Homo sapiens: one gene and its partner. The protein of the gene in region 1 purifies or fractionates together with the protein of each later gene. This does not show direct contact. Each region holds a gene or a part of one and is shown on either strand. Other genes may lie near its edges. The genes, in order: TMEM106B and TMEM192.

Region 1 (8,534 bases):
ACATTAGCGTAAAGAGTTTCTAGACATTCTGCTGGAGGTGTTCTGGAATAAATTTGCTCAGCTTCTGTCTGTATGAAAATAGCTTTCTTTTGCTTTCAATTTTTTTTGCTAGACATTGAATTTAAATTGATATATTTTATGTTCTTAGACACTTCAAATATGCTATTCCATTTTCTATGGCCTCCATCACTTTTGATATAGAAATTAGTAGTGATATTATTATTGTTTCCCAGTATGTAATGTATATCTTTCTTAAGACTAATTTTAAGGGTTTTTTTATTTGCTGTTTCCCTAGGTTTAGTGTTCTTTAAATTTGTTTTTTGTTTTGTTTTGTTTTTAGGATTCACTGAATTTCTTGAATATATGGATTTACATATTCAGTCAGTTTTGGAGATTTCTAAGTTTTTATCTTTTCAATATTTCTTCTATCCCCTTTCTGCTCCTTGGATTCCAAGTACATATGTGCTAAATGATTTGATATTATCCTAAAGATATCAGATGCTCCCTTCCATTTGTCCTTGATTTTGCTCTTTATATTCAGTTTATATAATTTCTACTGACCGTCTCAAGTTTACAGGTTTTTTTCCCTCTGTTATGTCCAATTTGGTGATAATGCTAAAAAGTGAACTTTTTACTTCTAATATTTATTTCTAATATTTCAACTTGCTTTTTATAAATAGTTCCCATCTTTTTGCTAAAATTCCCTGTCTGTTCATGCATGTTTTCCATTTTTTATACAGATGCTTTAACATATCTATCAAAGTGATTTTAAAGTCTCTGCCAGATAATACCAAATCTGGGCCATTTCTGTATTTTCCCCTATTAATCATTTTCTCTCTTGACCATGGCTCACATTTTCTTGCTCCTTCATGTCTCATAATCTTTATTATATGCTAGATATTGTATAAAAGAAAACAGTAAATAACATGTACCTCAAAAAACATCTTGCCATTTTTTCTATCAAGATTATTGTTTGGAAGGCTGAATCAAATCTTTCAACAGTGAGTCAAAAACCCACATTCTGGGTTTTGTTGAAGTTTTGATTCAGTTTATTTACTATTGCTTTCAAATATGCTTGAGTTCTTGGCACTGGCAAAATCTCAAGATTAATGTGCACCTACTAGCTCATTCCACCAAACTATTCAATACTTTCTTAGCTCAAACACCTAGCTTCCAATATCTCCACAGGTTGTTCTGTTTACTCTCCAGTCTTGCCGGTCATTTCTGTGCCTCAGGAGAATCCTGGGCAGCCTGCCACCCTGCCTCCAGCCTTCACAGAGCTGCTGCAGTACACTGGTTAAAGGCCTAGAATCTGCAAAGAAATTTCTTCAGCATTCATGCCCTACCCCATGCCTTTAACATATGACATTTGAGCACTTAATGAAGACCTTTAGGAGAGAATTGGAGAGTGAGTGCACACTCGTTCTATCACTGGAACGACATGAGATTGTAATCTATCATCCTGGTCCACACACAGGGGTGTCATTCGGCAGGTCTCCCTTCGGCCCTGTTTATGGTGCATTCCTCCTTCTCCCACTGTTTTGTAGGTGATTAAAGCAACTCTAATTCTATTCTCTCTTAGGAAGCTCTCCTTATCTTTTGGATTTAAGTGTACTTAAATTTGCGTCCTCATTTCTTTGATAAGTTTTTTAAAAATGTTTAAAAAAAAAAAAACCTTCTCTAGCTTGTGTTTGTTGTGAAGAAACAGTCTTTTATAACATAAATCCTAATTGGACTCTGTGTTTTCCTTATTTTATATTCGGAACACCTCCTCAAGGATTTCTGGACCCAATTCTCCTCTTTTCAGCAGCAGTGATGATCACTTAGCAAAAGAGTGAAAATACCCTCTTTTCCCCCCCTAACCAGTTAACTTTACTCACCGTCATCACTTATCTTTGTGTAGTAAAAGTTGAGGACAGAATTCACTCTTCCAAATTTAATACAGATATTCATGCCACAGTGGTTAATAGCTGTAGCTTTGCAGTCAAAATATCCGAGTTCTAGTTGCTAGCTGTGTGGTCATGTGCAAGTCATAATACCTAGGATCCTCTATTTCCACTGTTTGAAATAAGATATGGGATAATAACAGAACCTAATCCATAGCATTTCTATAAAAATTAGATGATATAAACTACTTTACACAATGCCTGGCACAACAAATTCATTCATTGGCCAAGTGTTATTGAACTCCTAAAATTATTCTTACTAGAAATTATGATTATGACAAAAACCCTACAAAAGATGACTTGAATATTTGGGAAAGAAAGTTTTAACACATGGGAAAGATTAGCTCCATGCAGGTGTGAAGCAAGATGAATGAGACAGAGGAAATATAGAAGATCCTGCCTAAGAAGGAGTACAGAGACATAACCAAGAGTTTCAGATAGGTAAGTTATTTGCAGAAATTAATAAAGACCTCTGCTTTTAAAATAATTGGAATGACAAAGATGTGTCAATAGAGTCAGGAGTTTACTGCCTGTGAATGTAAGTCAGGTGGCACAGCGGGAAATGGTAGTTTTGCTAATGGTAGTTTTGCTATGTATCTGGGGCACTATCTCTGAAAATCAGCCAGACAAACTTCAATCTTTTCAATCCCTGGTTTCCAATGTAACCTATCCAGGTTTCTAACATAATCTGACCAGCATATCAGTGGAAGGGGGTGAGCTGAGAGAGACTTATATATTAACATTTGACAAATTATATGTTTCAAAATAATTATGTTCCTTTTCTGCTTATAATTTTTAACAGCTAATTTCTAGAAAAGTAATTTTTGCAAAATTTTTAGTTATGGCTGACTGCTATTAGGATTTGGGTGATTTACCATTAAAAGAGATAAAAGAGAATTGAAATGAGAGATAAGGCTGTTTTCAAGATTTAGTACAACCTAGAGAAATCCCTTAGCTTCAGCATCATACTAAATATAACCAGAAATCATTAAGAAAGAATGTTCTTCTATTCAAACTTATCCCAGACTGTTAAAATTACTGGCCTTTATATCTGATAGCACCTAGACCACTACTGAACTCGGAACTCAAGAAATCACTGTTAATCAAATAATTGGAAGCTTTTCAGAAAATTTTCCTTTCAAAATGTGCTTCAATGAAAAATAAGGCATAGGAACAAATGTACCAAACATTCAATATCTGTCTTTAAAGTACTTCCTTGTTATATGGATGATAAATTTGTAATCATAATATCTAATATTTACTGATTGCTCTGCAGGTATCAGCTCCCATCCATAACCCTTTGAGACAGACATTATTACTATCTTCATTTTGCAGATAATAAAAATTAGGTATAAAGAAGGCTAAGTATTTTGCCCACTCTTACAGAGATTTTGTATATCTCTGTCAGGCTGGGCTCATTTTCAGGCCATATGGCTCCCAAGGCTGTGTTCCCAACCCTGCTACTGAACTGCTTCTTACAGCAACATTCTCCCAGGAAGACTTATTCCTATGTGAATTCCAGGAATTTGGATAAGGAACTGTGCTATATGGCCAGCACGTTTTAAGTTAAATGATGAGGTTGAGAAAATACTAAATACTCCCTTAAGAATTAAAGAAAAAAGTAACTTTTTCACTTAAGAATAATATATATTACATTATAGAACCATTTGCCTATTTAACAATAATAAAGAAAAAACATCCATGCTCTCAAACTACAGGCAACTGTTTATATTTTGTATATTTCTTTCCATTTCAAGGCAGATATGTAATATATTTATATCTATATGTTATCTATATGTGAATATAGTTTACATCCTATTACAATACCTCATATCCTATACTTTGCATCCTGATTTTAATTTTATATCACTCCGCGTATAACAGCCTTATAAGATGGTTTTTACTGGCTTTATAAAAACTCAATAGATGGCTATTCCATAATTTTAAAAACTCAGTAATTCCAAGGGGAACATCATATCTCCACAGGTGGACTGTCAATAATTTTGAGAAAAATTTTCCCCCATGATTCTGATTTGTTTTAACCAACCTATTAATTTTGAAATTTCAAACAGTGTTAATGGAAGACACCCTGACCCTTCCCTTTGGAAAATATGGGCTAAATAAAAGCGGTTGAAAAATAATGATTTTATCAATGTCCCTTGTTGGACATTCAGTTTATTTAAATGGATACACCTCATACCCAAATCTTTTTAGAGTTCTCATTAGGTTTAGGATACTTCTGAAAGGGTGGAATTGCTGGACCAAACGATGTGAACATTTTAATAGTCTTGATACATACTGACTGTCTGCCAGAAAACTTAGGAGTTTTAAATCTCCGACAACATTGTATGAGAAAGCTCATTATCTCACATATGGATCTACAGTAATCCTCTTAAATTGTATATCGTTCTGACTTGTATTTCCTACTTTTACATAGCTTCATTTCCCAATTCCTGTTAGAATTCCCTGATTCTAACAGGATCACACTGATCCTGTTAGAAGAGAGAAATATATGACTCTCACTTCCTTGCTCCTGTGACTGTAAGAATGCCTACCATTCATTAAACGTTAAACTCTCCGCAGGAATGAGACTAGAGTGCCCTTAATATTATTACCGGCATCTCATTGATCCCTCAAAACGACTCCTTGTCGTTGTTCTTATCTTCTAAGTGAAATGACCTAGACGTTGGGGGAGGGCAGCCCCAACCCACAGCGAAGAGCTTAAGTACTGGGATCCGAGACGGGATTTCACACACCTGTAACTAGCACCAGAGTTAAGGGGTGGGGAGGGGCAGCGTGGGCAAAGCGAAACGAAACCGAGCAAAAACAAAAACTACGGCCTTGCCGCTTGCTGTCTCCTTCTAGTTGGCCAGTTTCTAAATTAAAATAGAGGTAGCTTTGCTGCTGTCAGCGGCGTGTGTACGGACCAGTTTATTCCATTCCTAAGGACCAGACTGTCAGCGACAACTCGCATTGCGTGAGCGAGGAGGCTGCTCAGCTGAAAGCTGAGGCAGATGGTGCACATTTATACCCTTTGCAAAAGGAAATGGTCTGATATGGGAAATAGGAGGAGCGACTGTTCCTAGGTAATTCGTGGCTACAGTGGACACTTTGAAGTCTGGGGGACGCGAAGGTAATGAAACCTGAAGAGCGCACAATCTCACACGATCGACGCCTCTGGGCTCAAACAGGAGGAAGAAGGACGCATGCGTCACGCGCACGCCAGGGGTGTCCCTCCGGGAGCGCTCTGCGCAGGCGCGGACGCAGGTTACAGCAGCGCTTGGCCTCTGCTGATGCCGTCGTTATCCTACCCCTCCCCCGTCCCAGCTCTACGGCGGCCGCGCGCTCCAGGCCGGTCGCTCCACCCCCCGGCTCCCGGGACTGTGGACTCCACGACCCTGTCCTCGGCCCTGTCCGCGCCGAAGCAGCCCGGGACTGCGCAGCGCCCCGCGTGCCGGTGAGCGACCCCGGACGTGCAGTCCCCAGGTCCCCTTCCGGAGCGAGGCTGAGCGGCTGCGCCGCGGCTTGAGCCGGGCCTGACAAGGAGGGGAGGCCGCTGGGGTGCTGGGCCAGCCGCAGGTACGGCGGCGGTCAGGGCTGGTGATCGAGTTGCTGTGTCGCCTCTAATGAGGCCCAGCCAGGGAACACTCGGCTTCGGCCCAAGCCCTACCTCTGGGTTGCCTCTAGGCCCTCACACCTTGAGCGCCAGGTGGCCCTCTTCCTTTTGCTGTTGATGAATGTTCTTGCCGTGGTGCCGGGATCTTATTTTGCAGCTTTACAGAGTAGGCTTTGTGCTAGGTGTTGTTTATGGAGCTTTTCAAAGGCGCTTGTTTCCTTAGTTCTCAAGCCCTTTTAGAACTAAAACCAGTGTCTACACAGAAGATCAGGAGCCATTTAAATTGGAGTGCTGTGATATATTTTTTCTCTCCAAACTGAGTCTGATATCCATGTTGACTTTCAGTAAACTAAGGAACCGCTATAATAAATAACACTGAGCCCACAGAGGTTGCAGAAGAGGGTCTAGCACCCCTTTTTTAAACCATTGAGTCTCCCAAGAATAAAAGTGGTTACACTTGTCAGTTCTCTAAGGAAAATCTAGTAGAGAAGGCAAGGGATTCCCAGTTTCTCACAGAGTCTGGCACTTGTCCAAACACCTACCCTAAAGCAGAATCGATCATGGCAGCTATTAGATTAGGACAGAAAACAGGCTCAAACGGAGAGCCACTTGAGTCTGCCTTTCTGTGTCTTTTTTCTCAACGCGCTCCAGTTAAGATGCAGCTTACAGCCTGGCTGTGTTGACTGAGATCCCAGAAAGAGTGCCCTTAAGGCCTTGCTGATAAGGCCCAATGATCCCAATTCATCTAGTGTTCCGCATAGACCCCAAGGTTACAGTGTGTGGGGACAGTGATGTTAAGTCTTCCCTATCCTACCTGTGGCTGACAGGTGTTGATTAAGACAATGATTTTTTAGAAGTCATAAATCATTTGTATTTTTGATGTGGGCAGTGATTTTTATAAATACATAGTTTTTTTTTTTTGAAAGAGTGAAAATCTCATTTTACATTTGTTTGCATACCATTTGTATAGTTTTTTAAATTCTGTTTATTTGAGTGACAGCAACAAGTGGATGGCATGCGAATTTTATTTATTTTTTTATCTTTGTATTTATTTTGTGTATATTCATGGAGTACAAGTGCCATTTGCTACATTGATACACAACATCCTGGTGAAGTCAGAGCCCTTAGTGCATCCAGCACTGGAGCAACACACATTGTACCCACCAAGCAGGCTCCTATCAGGCATGCCAGTTCTAGAAAGTAAAATTTTCTTCATACTCTAGGATGAACTGACTTACTTGGAATGTCTGTTTTGTTTAATCAAATAAGTGAGAATTTTTGAAAGAAATACTATCTGTCTGAATGTATGTAATCTATTTTTAGGAACCGCTAAAAGACATATCAAATTTAGAAGGAGTATAATTATGTTATTTTTCAGTTTTACTTTTTCACTTTATTTTTTCTCAGGATATAAGCAGGAAAATACCAGCAGGGTGTATTATATGACTGTTAAGTTCTTTTCAGCTTTAAAAGGGTATGACCTTAAGTATAAAGTTACTTCATTATCTACCTGCAGAAGTTATTTTTGTGTAGGCACTAGTACTAATTATTTATTTCTACTTAGATTTTTACATTTGTATTGTTATTTTGATACTCTTATCCTAAAATTTTTGAAGTTAGTGTTCTAAATTTTGCTGCTTTGTATTGGTAACTTATATTTAATATTTTGGAACATTGGCTTCATAATTTTAACTGTCAACTGTTGAATGAAAAAAAAACTGTGATTTTGGAATTTTGGGGCTTTTTATTGTTGTTGCGAGTGTTTAAATGTTTAAAGCAAGAAATTTAAGGATGGAAAAGAGTGGTGATTGTATTTATCACAAAGGTGCGTGAATTTTCAGAGGCTGAAACGTACTACTTTGAAGTTACTTGGTGATATACATCAAATACCTAGTTATCGTCTACCCAAAGCAATTTTTGCCTTTAGTGCTAACTAGTTAAAAGGTAGAATGTATTTTTATTTTATTTTAAGAAAAATGAAACCTGCATGTTTCTTTTCAGAGAACCTGCAGGTGTAGACTTTTGTCAAATGTTAATGTTTGAAAGCCCATTCTCATCATAAGCATGATAGGACATCATTTCACATTATTTGTTTAAAAAAACACTTCTGGACTCTAGTAAATGGCTCCTTTGTTTCAGACATTATTTTGATTGGATATAATCCTAATCCAAAAGGTATAATCCAAAAGGTAGTTTGAACATTCTCTTAATGTTTGTTCTGTAAACCAAAAATAAAATTCTGAGCCCCCCAACTAAGTGGAACCCGCTTCTCTGTCAAGGGCATTCCAAAGTAAACCTAAAAAGGTAGTTCAGGCCATGATGAAAAGGTGGGTGGAGGGGATTGAACATGCCCCGTTGTACCTTCCTCTCTTTGGAATTCAGGCACAACTGACCAGCATCAATTAAAACAGAGATTTGAAGACTAACAAGAGTCTCTTTGTAGCAATAAGATATCAAATCCCAACCTGACTCTAATATAGAATCACTCGACAGATAGCAGGCCCTGAGAGAAATTGAAATATCTTACCCCAAAATATATTTCTTTGAAATGGCCTTGCAAAGCTGTCTCTCGTGGGGAAGATCCACATTCTGTACAGAATCCCCTTTCCTTTCCAGATCTTTTCCTAATTCAGCAGCGATTTAACCAAGAGCCTGGAATATTTTAAGGAGTAATAAGAGACATTTACAAACTATTCTCTCTGAAGCCTGCTACCTGGAGGCATCATCTAGATAATCAGAACCTTGGCTTCCACATCCTCCTCCCTTGTCTTAACTACAAACATTTCTTTCTGCTGACTTCAACTCCTCAGGTAGAGTTTAACCGTTTCAACCAATTGCCATTAGGAAATCTTTAAATCCACCTATGCACCTATGACCTGGACACCCCCCAGCCTTCCACCCCTGCTTCAAAATGTCCTGCTTTTCTGGGCTGAATTAATGTATACCTTACATCTATTGATTTATGCCTCTGC
Region 2 (8,092 bases), on another chromosome or scaffold:
ATATACAGGAAAACAGGTCCACAACAGCCCTCTCAACTCCCTTTTAAAAACTGCAGATAGGAACATTCTGTACACAAGGTTGAAAACTTGATTTTTTTTCACTCGACAATGTAATCATGAAGGCTATTCTATGTTAATATACTGTATACCTATCCACCCCATTCTTAACAGTTGCATAGCATTTCCTTATATGAATGGGACACACAGTGTCTTCTGGATGCCAAGTAGCCAGGTAGTTTGTAGTCTCTTGATATGACAGACAACATGGCTATTATCAACAATATCTTTACATGTGTGCAAATATATCCACAATGAATTATTTGAAGATATAAGTAAAAGTGTACGTACTTTTTTTTTTTTTTTTTTGCCCATGACACAGCACTCAGGATGTCCTAAGAACATGTGCCCTACATTTTAAATGTTGATAGATACAGCACAACTGCCCTCTGAAACACTTATATAATTTTTACAAACATCACCTCTGGATAGGTCCCCTTCTTGCAGCCAACTTACATGAATAAACCACAGAAGATTCACTATGATGACTGTAGGAAGAGGATGGAATCGGGGTCTAAAGTGAGCTTGTAATGAGTGGTGTGGGAGAAGCTGGGCATCCAGAAGTGGGTCGTCTTCAATACTCTGGGTGATATCCAAGGAACCCTGGGGTGCAGAAAAACAAGCAACCTATAATCACCACTTTCTAGATTATGTTTCTAAGACAAATCTACTAAACTACAGAGCTTTTTAACCACATACAAATTAAAGGCAAGAGAACACATTGCCTACCTGAATCCAATTTTTTAAAAATTAATTATTAATTTAATTTAATTAATTAAAAAATTAATTAATTTTTTAAAAACTGTAGCAACACGGTCTCACTATGTTGCCCAGGCTGGTCTTGTTTGTTTGTGTTTTGTTTTTTGTTTTTGAGACAGTCTCGCTCTGTTGCCCAGGCTGGAGTGCAGCGGCGCAATCTTGGCTCACTGCAACCTCTGCCTCCCAGGTTCGAGCAATTCTCCTGCCTCAGCCTCCTGAGTAGCTGGGACTACAGGTGTGCACCACCACACCCAGCTAATTTTTTTTTTTTTTTTTTTTGAGATAGAGTTTCACTCTTGTTGCCCAGGCTGGAGTGCACTGGCACAACCTTGGCTCGCCGAAACCTCCACCTCCCGGGTTCCAGCAATTCTCCTGCCTCAGCCTCCTGGGGTAGCTGGGATTACAGGCATGCACCACCACACCCGGCTAATTTTTTATTTTTAATTTTTAGTAGAGATGGGGTTTCTCTATGTTGGTCAGGCTGGTCGCGAACTCCTGACCTCAGGTGATCCGCCTGCCTCGGCCTCCCAAAGTGCTGGGATTACAGGCATGAGCCACCGTGCCCGGCACACATCCAGCTAATTTTTGTATTTTCAGTAGAGGGAGGGTTTCACTGTGTTGGCCATGCTGGTCTCAAACTCCTGACCTCAGGTGATCTACCCACCTCGGCCTCCCAAAGTGGTGGGATTACAGGCATTAGCCACAGTGCCCGGCCCCAGGCTAGTCTTGAACTCTTGGCCGCAAGCTGCAATTCCAGCTACTCGGGAGGCTGAGGCAGGAGAATCACTTGGACCCAGGAGGTGGAGGTTGCAGTGAGCCGAGATTGCGCCACTGCACTCCAGCCTGGGCGACAGAGAGACTTCGTCTCAAAAATATGGATATATACTGCATTGTATATACTTTTAATTTGCTAAGAGTGTAGATCTTAAGTGTTCTCATCACATGTTAAAAAAAAGAAAAAAAGAATATGGTTCATGGGAAGCACATAACAAATCAGCAAATGAAAAGCATAGAAGACAATGCCAAAAAATTTAGGTCAGCTAACTGCACTACAATGAGACAGAAATGAAGGATTCATGAATAGGTTTTGGCTACACAGAATGAGAGCTCTTTATTTTGGAAGTAGGTAGTAGGACAAATGATGTAAGAGATGGCTGTTGATTGCTAAGATTACAAAGATAAGGACAGTAATCTAGGGTGTAACCTAGCTCTGGAGTGGGCTCCTCAATTTCCAGTAGCAGGTATTCAACACTGCTCTGCAACTGTTTTTGTTGTTTTGTTTGTTTGTTTGTTTTTGAGATGGAATCTCGCTCTGTCGCCGAGGCTGGAGTGCAGTGGCTCAATCTCGGCTCATTGCAACTTCTGCCCCCTGGGTTCAATCGATTCTCCTGTCTCAGCCTCCTGAGTAGCTAGGATTAAAGGCACGCGCCACTATGCCCGGCTAATTTTTGTATTTTTAGTAGAGATGGGGTTTCGCCATGTTAGCCAAACTGGTCTCAAACTCCCAACCCCAGGTGATCCGCCTGCCTCAGCCTCCCAAAGTGCTGGGATTACAGGCATGAGCCACCGCGCCTGGCCAAGTCTTTTATTCAATGCCTAGATTGCTTCCTGTTTAGTTTACCATAACTCATGGTACAATTCAGATTACTCCTGTTCTCTTCAAGACCCCTCTGCCTCTAGCTCATTCTCAGTCAGCAGATGTTGGAGCCTTGAGATCTGCTCTTCCCTTAGCTAATGTCTGTGCATTCTTTCATGCTCAGAAGGGGCAATTCCCACCACAGGGCCTTTCTGGATACCCCTAATCTGGATTGTGCCACCCTCCATGTTTTTCAAAGCATTCTGTGCTTGCCTCTTCTATCAAACTATCCTGTGATGGTCTCTTACTTATCTCTTCTCCACTAGACGTCATTGGACCCATTACCTTTACACCTCTTGTCTTTGTAATCCCAGCACTCAACACTATCTCATGGTTGTCACTCAGCAAACATTTGCTAGATGAATGAATGAGTGCCCCAAACCTGTTTCTGCAGTATTTTCTAATTCAATTATGGGCATCATCAAAGACCTGGGCTAATTAGAAGAGATTATCAGGACATACGGGGGATCAACTGTGACCAAAGGCAGTAAGAGCTGTGGTTAAGGTCAGGCTCCTAAGGGCAAACTGCCTGGATTCAAGCACAAGTTTTACCGCTTTCTAGCTGAGAGCAAGTTACTTCATCTCTCATGCCTCAGTTTCCACATCTAAAAAGGAGACTAATAATAGCACCTGCTTCGTAGCTCTGTCAGGAATACTAAATGAGTCACTACACATGCAAGTCCTCATGACACTGCCTGACGCACAGAGAGCACTCAATAAGTATTAGCCACTATTATTTCTTTATTAACTCTTTTCTCTTTTTAATATTTTTTAAATTTTAAAATAAAAATCAACAGGGTCTCGCTATGTTGGCCAGGTTGGTCTTGAACTCTTAGCCTCAAGCAATCCTCCCAAGTGCACTCCCAGTGTGCTAGGATTACAGGTGTGAGCCACCACACTTGGCCTTTTTATTAACTCTTACTTTTGACTTGCACCCCGCTATGGTCTAAATGTTGGTGTCCCCCAATAGTTCCCTGCTTTCCTTTGGGAAGTAATTAAGCCATGAGGGTTCCCCCCCTCATAAATGAGATCAGTGCCCTTATAAAAGAGGCTTGAATGAGCTCCCTTCCACCTTCCACTGCGTGAGGATGCAGCAAGAAGGCGCCATCTTTGAAGCAGAGAGCAACCCCTCCCCAGGGCTCTTGGCACCTTGATCTTGGGCTTCCTGAATCCGTGGCTGCCTTAATCTTGGACTTCCTGTCCTCTAGAACTGTGGTCAATACATTTCTATTTGTAAATTACCCTATTTGTATTTTACTATAGCAACCCAAACAAAGACACTACCCCTATAATCATTACCATTCTATCCACTCAGTGCTGGGGCATGATAAAAAGAGAAAAAATCATTACCATTCTAACTCCTAAACCTGTTATTTCCTCTCTATTCTCACTATCTTAGTCCAGGCCCTCCCATTTCTCATGGCCTTTTATTAGAAGCTTCCAGTCTTCTGGTCTTGGCAATCTCTTTCACTGCTCCAAGACAAACATTCGTGTTTCTCTCCTCAAAAACTTTGGGTAGCTCCCTATGATGGTCAATATTAAGTGTCAAATGGATGGCAAAGTATCGTCTGTGAGGAGCCAAACATTTGAGTCAGTGGACTGGGAGAGGAAGACCCACCCTCAATATGGGCAAGCACCATCCAATCAGCTGCCAATGCAGCTAGAACAAAGCACAGAATAGGCGTATAAGCAGCTTGCTGAGTTTTCTGGCTCTCTCTTTCCTGCGTCAGATGCTTGCCTCCTTAATTCCTGCCTTTGGACATCAGACTCCAGATTCTTCGGCCTTTGGACTCTGAAACCTGCACCAGCAGCTTGCCTGGGGCTCTCAGGCCTTCGGCTGCCGACTGAAGGCTGCGCTGTTGGCTTCCCTGGTTTTGAGGCTTTTGAACTTGGACTGAGCCACTACCACCTTCCCTTTCCCCAGCTTGCAGGTGGCCTATCATGGGACTTCACTGTGTAATCTTGTGAGCTAATTCTCCCTAATAAACCCCCTTTTTATATATACATATATCCTATTGGTTCTGTCCCTCTGGATAATCCTAATACGATCCCCAAATCCTCAGGACAAAGTCCAAATTCTTAGTCTATCGCTTTACAATCTGTCCCCAAGTAACTTCTCAGGATTTTTTTTCTCTCTTTTTTTTTTCTTTTTTTGAGACAGAGTCTTGCTCTGTCCCCCAGGCTGGAGTGCAATGGCATGATCTCAGCTCACTGCAACCTCTGCTTCCTGGGTTCAAACAATTCTCCTGCCTCAGCCTCCCAAGTAGCTGGAATTACAAGTGCCCGACACCTTGTCCAGCTAGTTTTTGTATTTTTAATAGAGACGGGGTTTCACCATGTTGGCCATGCTGGTCTCAAACTCCTGACCTCAAGTGGTCCACCCTCAGCCTCCCAAAGTGCTGGGATTACAGGTGTGAACCACTGTACCCAACCTTTTTTTTTAAAACAAAAACAAAAACAAAAAAAAAAACAGGGTCTCACTCTGTCACCCAGGCTGGAGAACAGTGGCACGATCTCGGCTCACTGCAGCCTCCGTGCCCCCCTCCCCAGGCTCAAGAAATCCTCCTACCTCAGTCTCACGAGTAGCTGGGACCAGAGGCACACTCCACTATGCTTGGCTAATTTTTGTATTTTTAGTAAAGGTGAGATTTCACCATGTTGCCCAGGCTGGTCTTGAACTCCAAAACTCAAGCAATCCACCCACCTTGGCCTCCCAAAGTGCTGGGATTACAGGCATAAGCCACCACGCCTGGCCAAGGATTTGCCTCTCACCATTTCCCTCCCTCCTGGTGCCGTCTGCTTATGATACCCGTCTTTCATGAAACACTTTCCATCTCTACACCAGCTCTACTTATTCTTCCCCACCTGTCAAATGCTTGTCCCAGCAAAACCGCCTTCTCTGCGGTGCCTTTTTAGCATTCCCAGCCCCAGCATCATTCCTACTGCACTCTTAATCTGACATTGTAGTTTTCATCTGTACAAGTTTGAGCTGGGTCTACTTTGTATCTTCCATGTCTCTATGTAACTTCTAAATATATAGAAGACATTTATAATAATGTTTAATGTTCACATGCTATTTCTAGCCTATGTCATGTCTGAATCAGTTTCAGTGGACTCAGTACAGCTCACATTTTCCTGCCTCTTAGCATGCCTTGTCATTTTTTATTGGATGCCAGATATTGCAAATTTTACCTCTGTGGGTGCTGGGTATTTTCTGTATTCCCTTTTTTTTTTTTTTTTTTTTTTTTTTTGGAGATGTAGTCTTGCTCTGTCACCCAGGTTGGAGTGCAGTGGCATGATCTCGGCTCACTGCAAGCTCTGCCTCCTGCGTTCACACCATTCTCCTGCCTCAGCCTCCCAAGTAGCTGGGATACAGGCACCCAGCACCACGCCCGGCTAATTTTTTGTACTTTTAGTAGAGACAGGGTTCCACCATGTTAACCAGGATGGTCTCGATCTCCTGACCTCGTGATCCGCTCGCCTCAGCCTCTCAAAGTGCCGGGATTACAGGCATGAGCCACCGCACCCGGCCATTTTCTGTAATCCTATATTCGTGAACTTTGTTCTGGAGTGCAGTCAAGTTACTTGGAAACAGTCTTGCTGTTAAGAAATTAGGTGGGCTTCATCTAAGGCTAATCTAAGGCCTCCACTACTGAGGCAAGACCTTTCTGAGTACTCTACCTACATGCTCTGTGAATTATGAGGGTTCCGTCTGGCTTGTGGGTGAAATAGGCAGTATTCTTGGCCCTGTATGGAGAAACTGTTCCTTCCAATCCTTTTAGGTGGTTCTTTATGAGGCCTCCAAGAGCTTCCTCATGCCCTGATTAGCACTCTACTGGATGCCTGGTAGGCGCAGGGCCAGGGGGCTCCCCGTGCATATCTTCAGAGTTCTCCCTCTTTGTAGCTCTCTCCTCTCTGGGTGCTCTGTCTTGTGAACTCCAGTTACCTCGATCTCCTAGACCCTCAACTCCATCTCCTCAACTCAGAAGTCTGCTGGGCTCTGCCTGGCTTCCCCCTTCCCTGTCACAGCCTGCACACTCTTTCAAGGCAGTAAGCCGGAGCAGTGATAGGGTTCACAGCATTTGTTTCCCATCTCTGAGATTGCTACCCTTCATTGTCTGATGTCCGGTATCTCACAAAGTGTTGTATCATACGTTATATCTAGCTTTTTGGTTGTTTCAGGCAGAATGGTATATCTATTCCCAGTTACTCCATGTTGGCTGGGAATGGAAGTCCCTACTGAACTCTCTTACATCTGTATCTGTATCATAACCTACCATACTAAGCACATGGCATTGAAATTGTCAGAATAAAATGTGCTTTACAAGGGCAGAGACTCTTTTATATTATGTCCTTTGTGCTTTTAACACTTGATACACAGCAGATGCTAAGGTGTTCAATATGCGTGTTGAGAGAAAGAAAGACTGCTCAACTTCTTGTATGCTTCAGACCTGGGAAATTTTTATTTATTTATTTATTTATTTACTTTTGAGACAGAATTTCGCTCTTGTTGCCCAGATTGGAGTGCAATGGTGTGATCTTGGCTCACTGCAACCTCTGCCTCCCAGGTTCAAGCAATTCTCCTGCCTCAGCCTCCTGACCACAGGCTGGGATTACAGGCATGTGCCACCATGCCCAGGTAATTTTTATATTTTTAGTAGATACCGGGTTTCGCCATGTTGGCCAGGCTGGTCTCAAACTTCTGACCTCAGGTGATCCACCCGCCTCAGCCTCCCAAAGTGCTGGGATTACAGGCGTGAGCCACCGCACCTGGCCAGACCTGGGACATTTAAACAAAGCTAGCATTGAAAACTTCACTATAAGACAATAATCTACTTTATCTCCTAATATGTCACTTTCATGCACCTTCTTCTCTCGCCTAAATGAGCTTTCTATAGAGCCCTACAAATATCCTCCCTTACCTTTTTCAGAATTCTATGCATCTTTCAAGGTCCTAACCAAGTTTATGTTCTCTATAAAACTGGCCTTGTTAAGTGTTTTCCTTCTGCTTTAAAATCCTATAAAACTTATTGCCCATAATATTCATTTGGAATATTTCTTATGCTGCCTTGTATTGTTTTCCTTTTCATGGGTGTATCTTTTGTTTTTCCTAACTACACTGAAGGAGTTGGGGACTATAATATGGTTCTTCTCTATGTCACTCAGGAGTATTTACTTTCCATTGAATCCTATAGGAAATATGCAGTGTAACCATACAAACAGCACCCAGTCATTCTATTAACTCACCATCTGCAAGTGAAGGGTGAGGGGAAGAGGACTCCTGAATCCAAATGATTTTTTCATTTCCATTATTAACTACATTACCACCTGTAGAAGATGTCTGTTGTTTTTGCCCACATGGTATCTCTTCTCTCTTCTGTGACAATAACTCTATTTCCTTTGAGGACCCACTGTCTACTTCTGCATTAAGTCTTAGTGGAACCATCCTTCAATACCCTTCCTCCTCCTCTGCTCTAGGAGTGGTCATGGAACAAAAAACAGTTGGGTGAATCCAACTCTTTCCATGAGCAGTAAAAGAAAGATCATGAGGCCGGGCACGGTGGCTCACGCCTGTAATCCCAACACTTTGGGAGGCCAAGGCAGATGGATCACCTGAGACCAGCCTGACCAAAATGGAGA

The links.
Region 2: the proteins of TMEM106B (region 1) and TMEM192 purify together in Homo sapiens (affinity purification with mass spectrometry; 2 studies listed by BioGRID and IntAct, with this or other methods). This does not show direct contact.

Annotation. Positions count from the first base shown.
Region 1 is NC_000007.14:12,206,023-12,214,556, forward strand, and holds the start of TMEM106B (transmembrane protein 106B), read left to right. Parts: upstream 1-5,271; 5' UTR 5,272-5,403; intron 5,404-8,178; exon of another isoform or gene 8,179-8,372; intron 8,373-8,534. UniProt on the Homo sapiens protein: In neurons, involved in the transport of late endosomes/lysosomes. May be involved in dendrite morphogenesis and maintenance by regulating lysosomal trafficking.
Region 2 is NC_000004.12:165,102,437-165,110,528, forward strand, and holds part of TMEM192 (transmembrane protein 192), read right to left. Parts: intron 661-8,092; coding exon 514-660; intron 1-513.